Regions from separate parts of the Homo sapiens genome. Here region 2 is linked to region 1. The links come from fine-mapping of genetic effects on gene expression. A gene starts in region 1. The other region holds a variant in brackets. All regions are shown on one strand. Distances are between the middles of the regions.

The links.
Region 2: its variant is fine-mapped to the expression of SERINC3 in monocytes after LPS (Fairfax 2014, PIP 0.95). The same link has a PIP of 0.9 or more in B cells, CD4 T cells, CD8 T cells and neutrophils.

The regions. Positions count from the first base shown.
Region 1 is chr20:44,517,343-44,525,682 of GRCh38, reverse strand. It overlaps SERINC3 (serine incorporator 3), which reads left to right and starts at 3,613. Exons shown (of 10, transcript NM_006811.4): 1 at 3,613-3,770. The coding sequence starts at 3,732. RefSeq lists enhancers at 512-1,388, 3,421-3,715, 3,622-3,931, 3,850-4,402.
Region 2 is chr20:44,495,105-44,503,444 of GRCh38, reverse strand. It overlaps SERINC3 (serine incorporator 3), which reads left to right. Exons shown (of 10, transcript NM_006811.4): 9 at 2,145-2,372; 10 at 3,011-6,004. The coding sequence ends at 3,149. Among named protein-coding and RNA genes, the nearest start is that of SERINC3, 23 kb to the left of the region's middle. RefSeq lists an enhancer at 6,058-7,257. The variant AT/T (reference allele first, on the strand shown) is at 3,545.

The sequences.
Region 1 (8,340 bases):
TGACACATAGTAATAGCATGGTAAATATTTATCGAATGAACTAATAAGTTAAGTGAAAAAAAAGCGGCGGGTGGATCACCTGAGGTCAGGAGTTCAAGACGAGCCTGGCCAACATGGTGAAACCCTGTCTCTACTATAAATACAAAAAAAAATTAGCCAGGCATGGTGGTGGGCACCTGTAATCCTAGCTACTCAGGAGGCTGAGGCAGGAGAATCGCTTGAACTCAGGAGGCGGACGTTGCAGTGAGCCAAGATTGTGCCACTGCACTCCAGCCTGGGCGACAGAGCGAGACTCTGTCTCAAAAAAAAAAAAAAAAAAAAAAGTGCCATAATGCTGGCATATGCATATTCCTGTAGGAACTCTGAAAGGAGATCTGGGAGATGGGGGTGGGGGAAGGGTGGGAAGGACACTTCATTTTCACCGTGTGCTCCTTTATGCAGTATGTTATAACCAAGTACATGTGTTATCTTTTCAACAACATATGGGGGGAAATAACCTAGGTTTTTTTACTCGCGTCCGTGTGAAGAGACCACCAAACAGGCTTTGTGTGAGCAACAGGGCTGTTTATTTCACCTGGGTGCAGGCGGGCTGAGTCCGAAAAGAGAGTCAGCGAAGGGAGATAGGGGTGGGGCCGTTTTATAGGATTTGGGTAGGTAAAGGAAAGTTACAGTCAAAGAGGGTTGTTCTCTGATGGTCAGGGGCGGGGGTCACAAGGTGCTCAGTGGGGGAGCTTTTGAGCCAGGATGAGCCAGGAGAAGGAATTTCACAAGGTAATGTCATCAGTTAAGGCAGGAACAGGGCATTTTCACTTCTTTCGTGGTGGAATGTCATCAGTTAAGGCAGGAACAGGCCATCTGGATGTGTATGTGAAGGTCACGGGGTTATGATGGCTTAGCTTGGGCTCAGAGGCCTGACAGGTTTGACAATGGATGTGTAAAGATGGGAGGAGCTGCCTTGGGTGGCAGTGAGCCCCCTACCCTAGAAGAGATGTTGCTAAGGGGTTTCTGCCTGAGGCGGGAAATTGGAGTAGATGATCACAAAGATCTGCTGTCCTCGCTTTGGCCAAGTAGAAGTGACACACTCAACCAGTTAGGGCCAGAAACACTAAGAGATGGGGGGATCCTACATGTGGGAGGACAAATGCTTACAGGTAAGAAAATGAAAAACTGTTCAGCTGACAGCTAGACCTAATGTTTCTAACTGAACAAAAACAGTGATCACAGAATATAAACAAAGATCAGACAAGACCACCATGTAGTTGGATCAAGATACAGACAAAGCCACTCTGGTACCGCAGATAGGACTCAACATCTTCCAATTCTGACTAATAAATGAGTGGATTTTGCTTCTTTTTTTGTAACCGAGCGAATTATAGAGAAACGCCACACTCTGAGACGAATTCAGGAGTCCTTTATTAGCCGGCAACTGAGAGATGGCTAGTGCTTAAAATTCTCTCGGCCCCGAAGAAGGGGCTAGATTTTCTTTTATACTTTGGTTTAGAAAGGGGAGGGGGAGCCTAGCTGAGGCAATCTTACAGAAGTAAAACAGGCAAAAAAGTTAAAAAGACAAATGGTTACAGGAAAACAAATAGTTCCAGGTGCAGGGGCTTTAAATCCATCACAAGGTGATAGATGTGGGGGCTTTGGGTACCATCAACCGGACAAAAATGCAGGGGCTTAGGGTACTATCAACCGGGTGAATTCCTGGAAACTGCAGCTATCGCTTGCCACAGTATCTTATCAGTTAATTGCATTCTTTGATGTGCTGGGAGTCAGCTTGCACAAGTTAAATCCTTGAGGAAGTGGGATGGGTAAGGAGCGGCAAGTGAAGGAGCCAAAATGGAGTTTGTCTGTCTCCCTCAGCTAAGAGAGAGTCAATTCAGGTTAAGACAAGGTAGGGTATCACACTTTTCCAAGGACTAATCTAGCCTTGTTTTAATCCTTCTTCCTTCTGGATAAAAATTTGTAAGATACCTAATCACTGAATTGCCTCTACTCCTTGACTGTGTCCAATCCAAAACTGTTCTCCTCCTCCTTAAACTCTCCTTAGATTTAGTTACCCAGCATAAACCCAAATCCTAAAATAAGTTCTCCCCAGTCACCTCTTACCAAGACACCTTATATTTTCTCTGATATGTGTTCTCCCTTTCTGAACAAGCTAAATAAACCTAATTCTTTTTGACTACAGGTATGTTTCTGGTAGAATTCGATCTGTAAAATTTATCACAGTCAGCTCTCTTAAGTCCAGACCAGCAATACTCAGACAGGAAGAAGCAAGAATGTTAAGGACTACCTGGAAAGTTCAGTGGTCCTGAAGCAACTTGACTTGAGCTGGTATTTGTGTATGTGTGGTGAGGAGAGGGATCTGGGAAAAGAGAGGTAGGAATTATTAAATGTGAGTAGTTCTCTTTCTTCTTTCATCAGCCCTTTTCATGGCCTTGGGCAAACTTTGAGCCTCATTCCATTTCTGTAAAAGATGAATTTGGAATACATTTTCAAGGAATCCAGGAAATAACATCCCCAAATATGCCACACTGGTATGATGATTGCTTGGGGAACAGCACATGGAGAGAGGGGCTTTTCATGAATTTCCCTTATCAGACTAAAGGCTGACAATCCAGAAGGAATTCAATTATGAATCCCCTTCCAGAGAGTTTTATCTATCAGGGAAGATTAACACACCACAGGAGAAGATATTGAAGTGTGACACCTTGTTGTCCGGACATCATCATTGTTTGCCACATTCCACCTAAACTATTATATGTGTAAGTAAAAAATGTTTTCATTTTCTTCTTTAAGTGAACTCTCAAATTTGACATGTATTTTGAAAGGAATATTTACATCACTGCTTAAATGGGAAATCAGCATTGCTCGGAAGAAATGAAAAGGTTATTGCTAACACACACCTCAAAACAAAACAATATTTTAAAACTGCAGGCATGGTTGCCTGTTTGAGAGATCTGGAAAATGAAGGCTTTACTCTGTTAGAAAGGGAGATAAATACTAGAAAAATGTTAAATACCATACTGGCCTCAAACAACTAGCCTGTTGGTTTGAAATGGGACGTTCTCACTCTGCTGTTTAATATCGCTTAATGTCCTTCATGCACCCTTAGAGCCATTCATTTTTCCCAAATGGGGTGCATCCCACATTTTAGGATACGATTTCCATCGTTTCTAGGTTAATTTGGACTCATCCTTTAGTTCGCAGATTAAAAAATAAATCCTTCAGAGAAGCCTTCCAAGACTACTGCCCAGCTAAATTACTTTCCCCTTACAATAGGAGGCACTAAATACACCTTTATTGAAAGCCTATTCCCCCATACTACTTCATCGTATTCATTACATTGGGGCACGGTGCATTTATGTTGTCAGATCTCCTATTAACTAGAGAATAAATTCTGAGCGTACTGTGCCTCTCTGTACACTTCTGTAACTTCCAGATCTTTGCACAATGAATACAAATGATGTAAGGAATGACACCTTCACAGTTCCTGCAACCCCAGGATGGTTTAGCCCCACCTTCCCCCTCAGCCAATGACAGGCGCCCCCCTCTGCCGCTCCGGTCGCGGACGGTGGGCGGGGCCACGCCGTGACGCATCCGTGCGTCTGTGGAAGGCTGCGTTTCCGGCCTGAGAAACCGTCATGTTTCTGGGGAGTCACCTCAGCTGGCAGTTACCACCGTGTTAGAAAGCAGCCTCAGGACCGGCCACCTCCATCACTGGCGTCACCATGGGGGCTGTGCTGGGTGTCTTCTCCCTCGCCAGCTGGGTGAGTTCGGGGTCCCGAGTCCTCGCCGGACCTGCGGTTTGCGGGGAAAGGCCTCGAGACCAGAGCTGCACGGGCCTTGGCTCCAGAGGCTCTCGGGATGTCAGCAGGCCCTGGGCTACAGAGGGTCTCCGGGGCCCCAGACGCAAATCCGCGATACCCTCAGGTCCAGCTTAGGCGGCTCGCCCTCCGGGTTCCTCGGGGAACGGAAGAGGCTAGGCCGCCATTGTTTACAATTCGGATGGCTCCGCCCTGCGAGGCTTCCTGACTAGGTTCCTCTGGAGCTGGAGAGGGACCAAGGAATGACAGCTCCCAGCGAGGGGCTCCGGTTCCTCCCGAAGCACCTCTTAAGGTGCCATCATTTAGTTCTAGGTGGCTCAAGTAATATTTTTATCCCCTAGCACGGGATTTGCCAAAACTACAGAGTGTGTGGCAAAGCTGGGGTTTTAGCGGAGGCTTGTCTGCAGTTCAGGTGCAAGGGAAAGAAGCCCTTGTGGATTGTTATTCAAAATTGGAAACCAGGGCCTGAATATTTTGGGACTGCTGTAAGTCATTTATCCGAGGATAATCACCCCAGCATTCCTCTCTTCGAGAACGATTGTGACAGTGAAGTGAAGGTTTAATCACCTTGTAAACTGTAAACATTTTAAAGAGAAAATTATAGGGCCTATAAAAGAATATGCTGAGTTCCCTCATTTACCCACTTCAGAGGAGCGTGATTCCTTGATTCCTCATTCTCCAGCTGATTTAATTGACCAAGTGTGTAGAAAAAGCACACTCAGTTTCTCCTGCTGTACTCACAACACACTTTTGACACCTGATGTGTGGTGTGTGGGGATTTTCCCCCAAACATCAGGCAAACAGTCAGCTCTGCAGGGGATGCCAACTTGGTGCCCTACAAGTCAATTCCGAAGCTCTCTACTTGGAGATAGCATCAAATCACACAAGTGGAGGGCTCAGTCTCACAAGACTGTGCCCACTTTCTGTGCCAATGGCAAGCCTCAGGTTGTTTTACCTGTGCTTCTGACCGGCCACCTATAAATCAAAGTTCCCGTGACCTCCCTCCTTGGCTTTGATTAATTTGGTCACAAAACTCAAGGAAACATGTTTACTGGTTTATTATAAAAGTATTTTATTTTGTGTATTTATGTATTTTTAATTTTAGATTCAGAGGGTACATATGCAGTTTTGTTACATGGGTATATTGCCTTATCGTGAGGTTTGGGTTTCTAATGATTCCGTTGCCCAAACAGTGAACACAGTATCCAACAGGTAGTTTTTCAACCCCTATCCCCCCACCGTCCTTCCCCACTCTTGGACTCTCCAGTGTTTATTGTTGCCATCTTCGTGTCTGTGTTCCCAGTGTTTAGCTCCCACTTGTAAGCGAGAATATGCTGTATTTGGTTTTCTGTTTCTGTATTAATTCACTTGGGATAGTGGCCTCCAGCTGCATCTTTGTTGCTGCAAAGGACATGATTTTCTTCTTTTTTTATGGCTACTATTAATATATTTTTAAAGATACAGATGAAGTGATATGTAAGACAAGGTGTAGAGGGAACGGGTCTGGAGCTTCCATGCTCTGTCTGGGGCAGTGGCGCCATCTCGGCTCTCTTCAACCTCCAAGGGATTCTCATGTTTCAGCCTCCCGGAGTAGCTGGGATTATAGTGTATGCCACCACGCCCAGCTAATTTTTGTATTTTCAATAAAGACGGGATTTCGCCATGTTGGCCAGGCTGGTCTCGAACTCCTGGGGTGTGAGCCACCATGCCCAGCCAAAAGTTCTTCTGAACTTTGTCCTTCTGAGCTTTTATGCAGGCTTCATTATGTAGTCAGCATTCATTAAATCATTGGCTTTTGGTTACTGACCTAACCTTCAGCCCCTCCTTGGAGGGTCAGGGGTGAGACTGAAAAGTCCCAACCTCCTACTATGACCCTCACCCATCATGAAGCCACCTAGGGGCTGCCAGTCACCAGTCATCTCATTAGCATACAAAAAGACGCTGGTTATTCCAAGGATTTTAGAAATTGTATGCCAGGAAATGGGAACCAAACATACATATATTTGACAGTATTACACCAAGGATTCTGTTTCAGCTCTTTCTACTATTTTTCTTTTTTTTTTTTGGAGGGGGACAGAGTTTTGCTCTGTCACCCAGGCTGGAGTGCAGTGGCTCAGTCATAGCTCACTGCAGCCTTGAACTCCTGGATTCAAGTGATCCTCCCACCTCAGCCTTCCCAGTACAGGTGTGTGACACCATGCCTGGCTTCATTCCACTATTTCTTAGGAACAGAATGTATTTTAAGGTTGTTGGTCCTAAATCAAAAGAGTGTTCCATTTTTAAGGGCTTTCTTGAGAGCAGTGGTTTTCTAATTATTCTGACCTTGACCTAAAGAAAGATTGTACATAGTTGATCTGTGATCTGATGCACCCATATAGAGACAAAGTTTTATGAAATAATCGTTTACTGTACAATTTTTCTTTTATCTTCTATCACATTAGAAAATCCTGGTGAGTTGAAGGCCAGGCATGGTGGCTCACGCCAGGATGGTCTCAATCTCCTGACCTCGTGATCCGCCGGCCTCCCAGAGTGCTTGGATTACAGGTGTGAGCCACCGCGTCTTGCCCGGCTTTTACTCTTAAGTTATATGGGAATCTATTACAGAGTTTGAAAAAAGGAGTGATGTGATCTGGGCCTGTGTTTTAACGAGGTGGTTTCTGGTTGCTGTGTGGAGAATAGATGGTAGAAAAGTAAAGGTAAAGCAGTGTAGGCTGGGAAGAATCTTCCTCCAGCCTTTTGGGTTCTGTTTCTGGGGGCTTGTGAATTAAACTGACAAAACAGATTATTTAGAGTTTATGCATGCAAGACATGTACACACAGGAGTGCTCAGTAATAGTAACTCAAAGGGGGCGGTTAGAACTTGAGGCTTTTTTTTTTTTTTTCGTTTTTGAGAAAACAAGTTCCACTCTTGTTGCCCAGGCTGGAGTGCAATGGTGGGATCTTGGCTCACTGCAATCTCCACCTCCCAGGTTCAAGCGATTCTCCTGCCTCAGCCTCCCAAGTAGCTGGGATTACAGGCATGTGCCACCACGCCTGGCTAATTTTGTATTTTTAGTAGAGATGGGGTTTCTCCATGTTGGTCAGGCCGGTCTTGAACTCCCGACCTCAGGTGATCTGCCCACCTCAGCTTCCCAAAGTGCTGGGATTACAGGTGTGAGCCACTGCACCCAGCCAAGGCTTTCTAATTTAGTAGGAAAAAGGAAGCTGGGAGAAAGGCTTCTATGAGAAGAACAAATAGGTTTCTTTAGGAAAGACAAGTTTTTTTAGGAGAATAAATAGGAAATACGTTTGTGGTAGTACTTGTTTATGCAGGTATGGTGGGTCTTTCCAGCTTCTTCATGATCTTAAAACTGCCCTGGAGAGGGACTTTATGGCAGCCTCGTTTCCCAGAAGTTGCTGCTTTTAGTCAGATAAGAGAAGCTCCCAGAAGGCTTTTTTTTTTCCTCTGCATCTGTTGAAGCTCAGATGCTTCAGCTTAAAAGCTTAAAATAATCTTTATAACAATTCAGGGCTTCTTTTTTTTTTTTTTTTTTTTTTGAGGCTAATTTTGCATTTTTAGTAGAGACAGGATTTCACTGTGTTGGCCTGGCGGGTCTTGAACTCCTGACCTCAGGTGATCTGCCTGCCTTGGCTTCCCAAAGTGCTGGGATTACAGGCGTGAGCCACTGTGCCGGCCAACTCAGAGCTTCTGAATGGGTCGCTACAGCTGTGAGATGGGAACTTTTGCGCTTAATCCAGATGAGAGATGATAGTTGTGGCTTGGACAAAGGTGATAGCTAAGGATACTGTGAAAATGGTCAGATTCTGGATATATTTTAAGGGTAGAGCTGATGTACTGACAGATTGGATGAGGATTTTGGGAAAAGGGAAGGCATTCGGGATGACTCCAGGTTTTGGGCCCAAGCAACAGGAAGAATGGAGTTGTCATTTACTGAAATAGAAAAATGACATAACATATAGTAGGACAGATTTGTCCCACAGATATTTACTGAGTACCTGCTCTGTAAAGATACAAAAGATATAACGTTGTAAAGATAGTCTCCCCTTCGAGATATTTACATTCTTAAGACAACTATAGGTAAGTAAGTTTATTAGTTTGCCAGGGCTTTATAACAAAGTACCACAGACCGAGTGGCTTAAACCCAGTGATTTCTTATCTCTGAATTCTAGAGGCTGGAAGTCTGGGATGAAGGTGTCAGCAGGGTTGGTTCCTTCTAAGGGTGGTGAGAGAGAATCTGTATCATGCCTCTCCCCTGGCTTTTTTTTTTTTTGGTTTGCTGGCAGTCTTTGATGTTCCTTGGCTTGTAGATCTCTGCCTTCACATGGCATGTGGAATTCTCCCTGTGTTGTAAGCCTTTGTCCAAGTTTCCCCTTTTTATAAGGACACAGTTATATTGAATTAGCTGCTCACTCTACTCCATATAACCTCATCTTAACTTACTACATCTGCAGTGACCAAGTAAGGATACATTTTGAGGAATTGGGCATTAGGACTTCAACATAAGAATTTGTG
Region 2 (8,340 bases), 22 kb after region 1:
AACTCCTGACCTCAGGTGATCCTCCTTTCTCAGCCTCCCAAAGTGCTGGGATTACAGGTGTGAGCCACCATGCCCAGCCTGTAGTAAGTTTTGAAATTAGGAAGTATGAGTCCTCCAAATTTGTTCTTTTTCAAAATTGTTTTGGCAGTTATGGGTCCTTTGCATTCCCATGTGAATTTCAGGATCAGCTTGTCAATTTCTGCAAAAAAATATGTAGCTGGGATTTTTATAGGGATTGAGTTGAATCTGTATAGACCAAATTGGGGAGTATTGTCATCTCAGCAATATTAAGGCTTCCAGTCTGTGACCATGAAGATACCTTACTGAAGTCTTCTTTACTTAAACCATTTATTTAGGTCTTTAATTTCTTTCAGTGGTTTATAGTTAGTTATTAGTATACAAATCTTAAACTTATTTTGTTTTTAAGTGTTTTATTCTAAATACAATTCTAAGTATTTTATTCTTTTCGATGGTATTATAAATGAATGTATGTTTTCTTAGCTTAACTTTTGGGTTGTTTATTGCTAGTGTATAGAGATATGATTGGTGACGAGGCATGGTGGCTCATGCCTGTATTTCCCACACGTTAGGAGGCTGAGGTGGGAGGATCGCTTGCATCCAGGAGTTTGAGACCAGTCAGAGCAAGATAGTAAGAGCCCGTCTCTATAAAAATTAGCCAGGTGTGGTGGTGCAATCTGTAGTCCCAGCTACTTGGGGAGGTGGGAGGACCAATTGAGCCCAGGAGGTCAAGTCTGCAGTGAGCTGTGATTGTACTACTACAGTCCACCTGGGTGACAGAGTGAGACCTCATCTCAAAAAGAAATACAATTGATTTTTGTGTTTTTTTTTTTTTTTTTTTGAAGAGAAGAAGTGTTGCTCTGTCATCCAGGCTGGAATGCAGTGGTGTGATCATAGCTCACTACAGCCTCAAGCTCCTGGTCTCAAGTGATCCTCCCACCTCAGCCTCCTGAGTAGCTGAAACTACAGGCACACACCATCATGCCCAGCTAATTTTTAATCTTTTTAGGAACAGTCTTGCTGTGTTGCACTGGCCAGTCTTGAGCTCCTGTCCTCTGGCGATCCTCCCACCTCAGCCTCTCAAGTAGTTGGGATTATAGGCGTGAGCCACCACACCCAGTCCTGATTTCTATATATTGATCTTGTATCCTGCAACTTTGGTGAACTTATTTATTGGTTCTAATAGTTTGCATGTGTATGTATTCCATAGGATTTCCTATAAACAAGATGAAGTCATCTACAGATAGAGATAGTTTTACTTCTTTTCTAGTCTGGATACCATTTATCTCTTCTATTTGCTCTGGCTAGAATTTTACTACATTGTTGGATAGAAATGGTGAGAGTAGGATCCTTGTCTTGTTCCTGATCTCAGGGGGAAAGTTTTTAGTCTTTCACTGTTAAGTATGATGTTAGCTCTGGGTTTTTTGTTCCTTTTGTCAGCCTGAGGAAGTTCTACTTTGACTGTTTTTATCATGGAAAGGTATTGGATTTGTGAGATGTTTTTTCTGTGTCTGTTGAAACGAGCATGTAATTTTTGTCCTGTTTTTGTATTTACATTTTTATTCAGTCATTTAACAAACTTTTAGTGAACATCTGTAGTGCTAGAATTACATAGACTAAGGTCACTGTTAAGGCATTCTTTGAATAGCAAGGAAGATAGGAGTGATATGTGCAGTGGCAGAAGGAAGCCTAGGAAGCTGTGGGAAGTCGGAGGAGTGTCTTGTAACCTAGCCAGTGAGGGGTGATGTCAGGGAAGGCCTTCCAGAGGACATGACAGCAAGTCAGAGAAGTGAAGGATGAGTAAGTTAGTTGGAAGGAGGTTGGCACGTGGTACCTTCCAATCATAGAAGCGGCACTTGTGAAGTCACGGAAACAGACACAGAGAGCATAGTGTGTTTTATGAAACTCCTAAGCAATTAAGCCATCACATCAAGTAGTAACTGATGACAGTGACGTCAGTCTTATGATGACAGGCAGCAGTTCAGAACTTTAAGCAGGATCTTCAGAAAGCTTTCAGTCTCCAAAGTAGGAACAGCTCAGCAGTAAGTGTCTTGTATACAGGCCAGTGGCAGCAGTTCATTGTCATGGCCCCTTTCTGATTTGTCTTCCTTGGGATCACTTTCCAGCATCCGCACTTCCACTAATAGCCAAGTAGACAAGCTGACCCTGTCAGGGAGTGACAGCGTCATCCTTGGTGATACAACTACCAGTGGTGCCAGTGATGAAGAAGATGGACAGCCTCGGCGGGCTGTGGACAACGAGAAAGAGGGAGTGCAGTATAGCTACTCCTTATTCCACCTCATGCTCTGCTTGGCTTCCTTGTACATCATGATGACCCTGACCAGCTGGTACAGGTAGGAGACACAGACAAAACAGACAGAAGACCATAAAACCCTTGGATGGCCTATAAAATCTCATCCATTGTCCTGACCTCAGAACCCTTGCTCTTACCCATATAATGAAGTTGGGTTAAATACTCTTGACTTTATCCCCTCTAGCATTTAAAACCCATTGGAATTCTTTGCAATGCAAATCATTGGGAGCTCTTACAGAGTTGAGTTAATTGAGAGAGAAAATCATGACATAAAGCAATCTGACCCATCTTTGTTCACTAATTTTCTGTGTATAGAGATGGCCATGTCAGAGCATTCTGGTTCCCGTAATAATGTACTAAGGAAGGAAAGTTTCAGGGAGGCTATCTCAATCTAGACCTTTGCCAGTAACTAGGAACATTTAAAGAACTTTGCCCTGATAGGGTCTTTCATGCTGGCAAGAAGAAAAGTCATTTGAGAGGCAGAGTCAATGAGCTGTTTAGTTCTTGGTCATAAGAACTAAAAATAGCAGCTTCCTCTGGTCCCCTTCAACCCTACTGGGGGGTAGTGCCAGCCAAGTTTCACTGGAGAATTTCTTGGCCTTGGCTGGGGGGCTGCAGGAGGCTGATAGAAGTCAGGTAGACCAGGCTTTTCTACCTGACTCTCTCTTGTTTTCTTAGCCCTGATGCAAAGTTTCAGAGCATGACCAGCAAGTGGCCAGCTGTGTGGGTCAAGATCAGCTCCAGCTGGGTCTGCCTCCTGCTTTACGTCTGGACCCTTGTGGCTCCACTTGTCCTCACCAGTCGGGACTTCAGCTGAACCTCTGAGTGCCAAGGACACCACTGGAACTCACAAAGGTCTCCTTCACCGAAAACCCATATACCTTTTAAGTTTGTTTCAACTAAAATATTAAGTGAATGCTTTGCAAGTTTGACTGTATGCAGGTTTATATCAGAAGGTGAGATTGAATAATGCTTGATGCAGAATCGAAACTTCTCATTTATCTGTATATTATGTTTACTTCTAAGGATATAGCACAAAGGGAACATTTTTTGTTTAAAGTGAACTACAGCTGTGCTGTGAAGAGAGTTCTTTATAAAGCCTGTAGGTTCTTTTAACTTTGGTTTAAAATGTAAGATAGGAAAATGTTGGATATTTGAGGCCATGCTTAATATATTTATATTGCAGTATCCTTTAAAAGCAAAAAAAAAAAA[AT/T]GCATTTATATTACAGTTTTCCTCTATGAAAGTCCTTACTTATATGATACAAGCACTGTGTTTTGTGCTTAAACTCTTCAGCGGGGTAGCATCAAAGTTCTTGGGGAAGGATCGTATATGTGGGTCCCTTCCCTAGAAGAATGGTTGCTGATATGGCTACTGCTTCTACATCTTGAGTTTTTTAATTTACTTTTTTTACACTGTAGCATTGAGACTGCTTGATTCAAGTCTGGTGCTTTGCCAGATGTATTAATTTCCATAAATGCTTTGTGAGTTTGGTTAAAATGAAGATTCACTTGGGAAAACACTGCAGCTTTAGTCTGTGTTACTATCTTGTTATGAGTATGTAAAAGTAAAATGCATGTGAATTTATCATATTTGCACTATGAAGGTATTTGGTTAAAATACAAAGACTTTTAAGATTTTAAGGCCCTTTCTTCCAACAGCTTTTATAGTTAGCAGCCATTCTTTATTTTCTGGATAGCCAGGTTTTATCACGCTTCTAGTCAGGATGCTCCTATTCCTTCTAAAAATTACGGTCTGACTAGTGAGCAAAGTCTTGAATTTATTCAAAAGTCCTAAATACCTTCTCTAGGTAAGACACTTGGTAGATGAGAGACGGAAGGCATTGTCAAGAACCATTTTCATGAGAGGTGGTGTGCAAAAAGGTAGAATAAAAGAGTTCTTTCAACAAAGATTTACTGTCTATTCTGTACTAGACCCTGTAGGTTTTGGGGTACAGTGTTAAACATGATAGAGGCTCTGCCGTCTTGGACTTTAATAGCTTAGAGAAGAGAGCAAATGAGCTGACAGGTGGTTATAATGTGAATTAGTGCTGTGGTTTAGGAATTGGAGAGAACTCAAAGGAGAGGTATTTGGTGTAATGGTAGGCTTTCTGGAGAAAATGATATTTAAGCCAAGAACTCTTAGAAGTTAGCTAAGAGAGAGATGGGAAAATGAGACGACATTGCTGGAGTAGATAAAACTGCATGTTAAAGGCAGGAAGATGGGGAAAAAAAGTTCAGTAAAGCTGGAATGGGGAAATGTAGTCAGGGACTGAATTTTAAAGGGCTTTATCAACCTCAGTAAAGAGTTTGGACCTTATGTTGAGGGTGGCTGAAAACATATTCATAGTGTCATGAACAAATTTTATCTTCAGTCACTTGGGCTGATATATAGAGAATGGATTTAGAGAGATGAGACCAGGTGCAGTCCATATGAGATGTGAAATAGAGAAGTGGAATCGTAGGGACGGGGAGAAATTGACAGGTGAGGGCTACTTAGCAATTAGAATTTTTTTTTTTCAATTTTAATTTTTTTTTTTGAGACGGAGTCTTGCTCTGTCGCCCAGGCTGGAGTGCAATGGTGCGATCTCCGCTCACTGCAGGCTCCGCCTCCCGGGTTCACGCCATTCTCCCGCCTCAGCCTCCCTAGTAGCTGGGACTACAGGCACCCACCACCACGCCTGGCTAATTTTTTTTGTATTTTTAGTAGAGACAGGGTTTCACCATGTTAGCCAGGATGGTCTCGATCTCCTGACCTCGTGATCCACCTGCCGCGGCCTCCCAAAGTTCTAGGATTACTGGCATGAGCCACCGTGCCTGGCCAGCAATTAGAATTTTAACACTGGCAGTTATGAATAATATGAAGGAGAGGTAGATTTCTGAGTGATTCTGGTTTAACCAGCTGGGTGGATGGTGGTTCCACGTATTCAGGTGGCAAACAGGAAAAACATGTGTTCGAAGAAGAATGGAGGTAGGTGGTCTCTTAAGAATGGTTAAGAGGCTTGGGAGTCAGACTGCTTGGGTTTGCATCCCAGCTTTGCCGTTTTCTGGCTATCAAACTTGTCAGCTATTATTTGTTGAGTACGTACTATTTGATTTATGACCACAGGCAGCTGAGCCTCAGTGTTGGTGCCTAGTGTACAAGATTGTTAAAGAATAAAGTTATTTTGCAAAGTGTAACCCATTTTTAGCACTGACATAGCACTGACAGTAGCTGCTGATCTCATTATGGGCTAAAATAAGACAATATTCAAAGGTCAGAGATATCTAGCCAGAATCTGATGGAGGCTGGATTTCAGATTTTGTTACAGAATTAGACAGAGGAACACAGAGGGGACAGGCTCAGTTAGGGTGGAGGTGTGGGGTAGGGAAGCAGGACTTGATATAAATTATTGGAATCATTGTCTTTTAAACCAGTGGTTTATGTCAGGGTATAGCGTTTCAAGGGATTTGAGGGTCAGATGGGGAAATGTAGCCCCTTATTTTGCCAGTGTGAAGCAGATACCCTGCTTTTCTTTACAGTAGCGGAGTCAGCTTAAGAGCTTTAAAGGTCCTAAACTTCAAAAACATTACAGTGCCCCATCCTCCGCCTTAATGTAATTCAAAATACAAACAATACTAAACTGTAAAATAAATGTAACAAAGTCCAATAAAGTTTTTATTTTTTTCTCATGATGATAACTGATATTAATTTGAAGTAACAAATGCTCTTTAAAAGTCGGGAGGCAGTGTCCCTGCTTTGCTTGGTCCTACCTTAAGAAGTAGTGAAGTCTGCCTCTTAGTAGGAAAACCAGTAGTCTAATCAAGACTCAAGTGAATTATACATGTGAATGCTGAATTATATACAAGCATGAGTAAGACAGCATTCTGAATAAGGCCAGGATCATCATTTAAAGCAGGGGAGTATTTTGAGTCATCAGATCTCAGGGTGGCCTTTCATTCCAGATGAGTACCTTTATGTTTCATCACTATGAAAGGGCTTGCCTAGCCTTGGGGAATGCGGGTTGGGGCCCTGGCTTTCAGATCAGGGACATGCTCTAGGAACTCATCAAAGGCAATAGCAGTGGCTGCCACTTTTACCTCGTTAAAGCCGGGAGAAAGCTTCTAGGTCCATGCTGGACTCCTTTATTTTCTAGGTTGGTCTTGCGGGTTATCTGGTTGGGAAGTAAAACTTTCTCTTGGTAATCAAAGAAACTGCCTGCCAAAGAGTAGCCATGGACCTGGTTCTCAGTATAGAGGTTTTGTTCTTTTTCTTTTTGGCTAGCCAAGTGAGGAATGGAGAAGGAACAAAGAAATCTGTAACTGGTTCTTTTTTCTTTTTTTAGACAGAGTTTTGCTCTGTTGCCCAGGCTGGAGTGCAGTGGTGCCATCTTGGCTCACTGCAACCTCCACCTCCCATGTTCAAGCAATTCTCCTGCCTCAGTCTCCTGAGTAGCTGGGACTATAGGTGCGCGCCACCACACCTGGCTAATTTTTGTGTTTTTAGTAGAGATGGGATTTCACCATGTTGGCCAGGCTGGTCCCGAACTCCTGGCCTCAGGTGATCCACCTGCCTCAGCCTCCCAAAGTGTTGGGATTACAGGCGGGAGCCACTGCACCTGGCTGTTTTTACACATTCAGGCTAAAGTGAGTATTCACATAATGAGTTGTGCATTTGATCTGTGCAGATTGATAACAGATAGTAGGCTTATGCTTATTAATGGAAGCTGCTGTTCATCTCTTTACTCCTGTTGTGTTGGTCTGTCCGTCCTGTTACCTAGGCACCCAACTCAGTGATGTCCTAATTACTGCTGGATGACTCAAGCCACACCATGCCTATGTTCTCAGGTGAAGAAGAATAATAGAAACCACATAGATGGGTAGGTGTACCAAGCATTAAACAGACAGTATCCACATGCCTGTAAGGTGGTGATTATTTCCCTCCCTCCTTCCTTTTACGTATCAGTTTGAGGCTTAGAGAAGTTCGTGACTTGCCTATGGTTACTCAGTAAGAGGTGAAACAGAGAAACCCAGGGCTTGGCTTAAGAGTTCTTTTTTCAATTAGACCTCAGTGTCTCTTGGGCCATAAGAATATAAGAGACAGGATTTATTAGAGACATGTAGGGGAGTCATCTGGCTCACTAATGACTCATCACCAACTCACCAGATCTACCATGGGAACCTAGTTTTTGTCTACTCTCAGGCACAGAGTGTTTGCTCCTCTACCCATCACTGACAAAGACAAGTTAGTAGTCACCTGAAGGCAAGTGACTCATGTCTTTTACTAGGTCAGCTATCCCTAGTGGCTGGCACCTACTCAGGAAAAAGCATGAATATTAGGTTAAAAACGTTTTCCCCAGAAGAGTGGTACCCTAAAGGGTCTTATTACTTACCCTTTAAATGCGATAATGTGAAACTTTATTGCCATTGAGTGTATGGGTACCAAACCAGTACTGTGTAAGGAGGGGGCAGGGGGCATCAAGAAAATACTGACTCATGGAAAAGGGCCTCATAAGACTGCTGTGAGAGAAAAGGATTTTAACAGTTAGCTTCATTTTTCTATATGTGAGAAACAGACTGAACTTAAGTTCCACAATTTCCTCAGGAAAGGCTGACCTGAAGGGGTGGTTATGCTGCAATATAAGTACTTAACCTGTTGCATCATCAAAAGTGTACCTCCTGTGTTAGAGTATTTCTCAACTGACTCATCAAGTCACCAGATCTACCATGGGGACCTAGTTTTTGTCTACTCTGGGGCACAGAGTACCAAATAAACAGGGGACATAGAAACAGCTTAGCAGGCCTGGGACCATAGTTGGGCAAGCCGTGCTCCAGTTACCCCTCAAGGAGTCTGGGCTTACTTCTGGAATAAAATGTTGTTACAACTTGGGTTTCAGAGAGGTTAACAACCACTGCTTGTATTTTCAAGAAGCCAGTTAAAAAGTCAATTTCTGGTTCTTTCTTACTCTATGAAAGAGTCCTGCCTTCTCTCTCTCTTCTATCTGGGGACTCGTTATTTGTCTCCAGCCATC